2 separate regions of the Homo sapiens genome follow, and region 2 is linked to region 1. Evidence: fine-mapped expression QTL. Tissue or cell type: whole blood. Region 1 holds a variant in brackets; the other region holds the start of a gene. All regions are shown on one strand. Distances are from middle to middle.

What was found. PIP is the estimated chance that this variant, and not a neighbour inherited with it, causes the effect.
Region 2: QKI starts here. The variant in region 1 is fine-mapped to the expression of QKI in whole blood (INTERVAL, PIP above 0.99).

What each region holds. Positions count from the first base shown.
Region 1 is chr6:163,351,312-163,354,152 of GRCh38, forward strand. No RefSeq gene overlaps it. Among named protein-coding and RNA genes, the nearest start is that of DKFZp451B082, 5.7 kb to the left of the region's middle. The variant G/A (reference allele first, on the strand shown) is at 1,470.
Region 2 is chr6:163,413,524-163,416,023 of GRCh38, forward strand. It overlaps QKI (QKI, KH domain containing RNA binding), which reads left to right and starts at 1,195. Exons shown (of 8, transcript NM_006775.3): 1 at 1,195-1,812. The coding sequence starts at 1,671. LOC124901234 (basic proline-rich protein-like) reads left to right here. Exons shown (of 4, transcript XM_047419614.1): 2 at 1-562; 3 at 726-1,145; 4 at 1,442-1,653. The coding sequence ends at 1,653. It overlaps CAHM (colon adenocarcinoma hypermethylated), which reads right to left and starts at 427. Exons shown (of 1, transcript NR_037593.1): 1 at 1-427. RefSeq lists silencers at 1-613, 704-1,523, 1,774-1,823, 2,024-2,213 and enhancers at 447-1,099, 1,100-1,753.

The sequences.
Region 1 (2,841 bases):
TAAGTCCGTAGCCAAATGCAATGTTCCTGCATCCCCTGAGTGTATGTGTCCTCTGTTGAAACTGCAGTTGAAGCTGACTTGTATCTCTGAATCCAGATGCCTAATTCCTGGAATACAGAGTTTGACTGGCCCATCTTGAGTCAGGTAAATTAACTTTGCTTGGGGAAGCAGGTCATGTAGCTAAATGTGGCTGCTATGTCCCTGGCTTAGGGGGTGGAAGGAGAGGCTAGAAGAAGGAGTTTGCTAAAAATGGGGGTCACTGGCTGAGAAGGCTGCCCAGTAGGTGTCTTCTTCAAGGAGGGACACAATTTCTCAGTTTTTATTCTTCCTAGTGCCCAGCACAGTGCCTTACAAACAGTAAGTGCTCAGTGAACAATTGAGGGGTGGTTGAGATGAGAAGAAAATAGCAAAATGCTCTGTATCTGAGGCCCTGTGGCATCATATCATTTATCCAGGAGCCCCAGGTGCTGGATGGTTAGGAAGGCCCCTCTTCCCGATCAGTCTACAAATATTGGTCCAGTACCATATGGTAAGTGCCTTCCATGCACACCTGCTCCACATATATTTACTATTTTTTTTCTGGGTTTCCAGAATTCTTTGACACCTGTAGCATATTTACTGTAGTTTATTATTATTATTTTTTTACACATTGACATTTGGACCCAGTGTTTCAAATGTAAAACTCCTTACCTAGAAAGTTATCAGAAGTTAAATAAAAATACAGGCTGGGCTCAGTGACTTTCGCCTGTAATCCCAGCACTTTCGGAGGCGGGTGGATCGCTTGAGCTCAGGAGTTCAGCCTACGCAAAAACTCCGTCTCTAAAAAAAGTACAAAAATTAGCTGGGTGTGGTGGCGCATGCCTGTAATCCCAACTACTCGGGAGGCTGAGGCAGGAGGATTGCTCAAACCCAGGAGGCGGAGGTTGCACTGACCCAGATCAGCCACTGCACTCCAGCCTGGGTGACAGAGCGAGATCCTGACTCCAAAAAACAAAGAATACAATGAGCATATTATTTGCTAACAACTAACATTGTTTAAAGATAAATGTATCCCCTGTCTCTCAGCTCTTTGGGCACTGTAAATATTTTGTAATTTAGTCTTTAAGCCCCTCCCCCCTGCCCACTTCCACCCGCCCAGCTCCTCTGGGGCCAGGCCTCTTCCTTTCTGCTCTCACACCACCCCTCTAAACTGGTCTGTCAGTCTGTCCGGTTGTCAGGGCTGACTGGCTGACTTGATAAACTTGTTCCACCAAAGGCGTTTCCCCCTGGGCAATTCGTTTCTTTCCCAACTCTCTCCCCGCAGACCCTGGAGGATGGTTTGTGTCTTAACAGGAGCATTCCAAGGACAAAATCTAATGACGCAGTGGTGGCAGGAGTTTTGTTCATGGACACAGGTCAGTGGGGAAGAGCATTTTAATGTAGGGCCTTTCCCAGCAGTCACCAAATCTTCATAGTAATCCCCACGAGTT[G/A]AGCACCTCCATGTGCCAGACACTATGATATGCACTTACAGTGGCACAGCCTCACAAACACCCTAAAAGATGGACATTAGCATCTGCATTTTGCAAATAGGAGCAGAGGGTCACAGAGCTTAAACAATGTTCTTCCTCAAGGCAGCAAAACAAATAAGAACCAGCCCTGAGGTCCAAACCCGGAGTCTTTTCTTTCAACCCGTGCAACCTCCCTACCCCTCCTTATATCCCATTGGCCTCTCACCGTGTTCTACGAGACCACAGCCCTTCGAGAGTAGACATGCATGTCCCCAGCCAGCCCAGAAGGAGATCACAGTAGCTACTTCCAGGTGGCGGAGGAAGGGCCCTGTCAGCCACAGGCCTTCTGCAGTCTCCCTCCTTGTCTCTCATGGACAGTCCCTGGAGGAACTGCTGCGTCCATGGCCACATCCCAATGTCCCATCTGCAGTTACCAAGAGAAGACTTGCTAAGATGTTCAGGGAAGAAAGGACATCATTCAGTGCTAGAACAGATTCGCCAACACCACAGCTCTTCTCCTGCCTCTGTGTCTCAACATTCAGACTGAAACTCTGAGTTCTGCAGCCCAGGAAGAGACTCCAGGAAACTGGGGGCCACTGTGCCTGCAGGCTCGTTTTCAGTCCCACCCCTCAGCCCTCCCAAGAAAATCCATAGAGAGTATCCTTCAGCATTTGTGACAGGGGAACCAGGGGACCCTCAGAATCAAAAACCCGTGGCCAGGCTGAAACCTCACACTTCACTTTCCCTAGAAATACCTACATTGAAAGAAGTTTTGCAAATCAAATCATAAGTATGTTGGAATTAATGATATACTATTAAATCCACTGTGGTGGCAAAGTCTTGGAAAATGAACTTTGTGTAATTTTTAAAAACACACTTCAACTCATCTCTTTCTTTTCTTTCTTTTTTTTCTTTTCCTTTTTTTTTTTTTTTTTTAGGCACTGGCACGATCTCATCTCACTGCAGCCTCCACCACCAGGGTTCAAGCAATTCTCCTGCCTCAGCCTCCCTAGTAGCTGGGATTATAGGCGTGCACCACCATGCCCAGCTAATTTTTGTATTTTTAGTAGAGATGGGGTTTCGCCACGTTGGCCAGGCTGGTCTTGAACTCCTGACCTGAGGTTATCTGCCCGCCTTGGCCTCTCAAAGTGCTTGGATTACAGGCGTGAGCCACCACACCGGGCCGTCACCTCATTCTCTTTACTTTCTATACCATCCTCTGAATGTTTGAAGGTGAGGCACATTCTCAGGCCAAAAATCTTTGCCAAAACCCAAGTTTAAAAAAACTAAGAAAAATTTGGTAAACTGGAATTCCTGACCTTTCCTAAACATCGTCAGCAATGAGTCTCAGCCC
Region 2 (2,500 bases), 62 kb after region 1:
CGCCCCGTGGGTGCGCACGCGTGTCCGCGCAGGCTTCCCGCCTGGCGAGTGCAAGGCTCCTCTCCGCCGTGCTGCTTTCCAGCCTCTCAGCAAATCACGAACACCGAAAGAAGCCACGGCGGCGACGGGAGGGGCGTCGCGCGTGCTTCCCTCGGCGACAAAGCGGGAGCCGGGCGCGCCGGCCGAGGGCGCCCGGCGCAGAGTCCCGCAGAGGCGGACGCCGCGGCACGCGCCTCGAAAAGCCTCAAACTCTTATCCTCGGCTCTCCCGCCCCACCTCCGCCCCGCAGCCAAGACCCGCGCCGTGGCGGGCCCGACGGCCAAGGAAAGCCCACCAGCCCTCCGCACCGTGGGCGACGGGCCAAGACCCGGCCCTAAACGGCCAGACCCAGCCCCTAGTCGGCTGCCGCCCCCGCCCCACGCAGGCGCGCTCCGGGGCCCTCCCCTCCCCCACCGCGCGCTCGCGGGGCCCGACGGGGGCGGAGCGACCCTCGGAAGGGGCGTGGCGACCGGGCTCGACGCGCGCACGCGCTCTGGAGCCCCACGGCTACGTGTCGGGCCACGTGATGCCCACCCCGAAAGTCCCCCGTGAAGCAACAGGACGTTAAAAAAAAATTTCTCTTCTGCGGGGTGGATAAGAGGTTCTGAAAAAACTATAGTAACGGGAGGCGAGGCGGAGGCAGCGCTGGCGCGTCCCGCTGGAATTCCTCTCGCCTGCCGCGCCAGCCCCGACCGCGCCCGCAGCCCCACCCGCCCCGTGCCGTGGAAAGCCCCGCGCCCCCCCCGCGGCCGTCGGCCCCGCAGCCCACACCCACCCGCCCCGGGCGCCCCGCACGGCGGCGACCCAGTCCTTGCGCCCAGGCCCGCCGAGCGCCGCAGTCCGTCACACTCCCGTTGCCCCCGTCGCCCGCCCCGCCGGGGAGGCAGGGAGGAGGGGGCGCGGCGCCGGCGGCTGCCCCGGTCGCGGGGCGGCGGGCAGCAGGCAGCGGGAGCGCGCCGGCCGGGACCCGCTAACGGCCGCCCTGCGCGGCCCCGCCCGCCGCCCGCCCCCGGCCCTCCCCGCGCCGCTGCCCCTCCCCCCGCCGCCGCCGCTGCTGCCGCCGCCGCTGGCAGCGCCGCCTGAACTGAGGCGAACTCCGCCGCCAAGTGAGTGAGGAGGAGGAGGAGGAGAAGGAGGAGGAGGAAGAGGAGGAGCGCAGTCGGAGCGCGGCGGCAGCGGCAGAGGCGCCGCGGCGGGGACCAGCCCAGAGAGACCCCCCGAGCCCGCGGCACAGGCGGCGGCGGCGCTGAGCGGGCTCGACCAGCCGAGCGAGCGGCGGCCCCGGCTCCTCCTCGTCCGGCGCCAGCAGCCCGCGCCCCGCGCCCGCACTCGGCCAGCCGAGACCCGCCTCCCGCCCGCCCGCCGGCCTCGTGAGGGACGCGCCGAGCCGGGCGGCCGAGAGCGGCGGCGGCTGGGAGCGCGTCGGGCCCGGGCGGAAAGTGCCTGCGGGGGGCGGGCGAGCGCGCGGTGCCGGCCGCCCCGGGGCTCGGCGCGGGAGCCAGAGCGGGAGCCGGCGCGGAGCGGGACGCCGGGTCCCGAGCGGCCCGCGGCCGGGGCTCGCCCCCGCCCCTCCCTCCTCTCCGGCGGCGGCGGCGGCGGCGGCGGGCGGAGTGAGCTGCGGAGCCTGGAATATGGTCGGGGAAATGGAAACGAAGGAGAAGCCGAAGCCCACCCCAGATTACCTGATGCAGCTGATGAACGACAAGAAGCTCATGAGCAGCCTGCCCAACTTCTGCGGGATCTTCAACCACCTCGAGCGGCTGCTGGACGAAGGTGAGCGTCTCCAGGGCCCCGGCCCCGGCCCGACCCCCGCCGGGGCGGCCCCTTTCCCCGCTTGGGATGGTGGGGAGGGCGGGAAGGTCACGGCCGGGCGGGACCGAGCGCCGGGGGGACTGGGAGGCCAGGAGGGCGCACAAAGGAGGTGCCGGGCCGGGCTTGCGGCGGGCGGGCGGGCCGGGGTGGACCCGCCGGTGCCGGACGCCCCCTGCCCGGCCGGGACCCCGCGCCGCTGGCGTCCAAGTTGGCGCGTTGCGGAGGGCTGCGGGGTGAGCCCTGCGGCCCCTCTAGCTTCGGCGGTCACATTTCCGAGAGGTCGGCGGGGGCTGCGCGGACTCGGTGGTCCTCGCCGAGCCCTCCCGAGAGCAGGCCCACGCCGCGCCGCCGGCCTGGAGGACGCGTGTGCCCGGCGCGGGCCCCGCTCCTCCGCTCGGCCTCCCGAGCCTGCTCTGCGCGGACCCCCACCGCCCCGCGTTCGGGAGCTCTCCCCTCCCGTGAGGACTAAAGCGGGGTTTCGTGGTTGGGGAGTTGGTGCAGCTGTTCAATACTAAGTGGAAGTCAGTGTGGGGCTCGTTAGTTTAAAGAAATTCCGTAGGAGACCGAAATTATGCTGGCGTAGCCGACAAGGAGGACTAAGTGACGGCGAAAAGCACTTTTTTCCCTTTTGTTTGGGGAAGCGAGAACT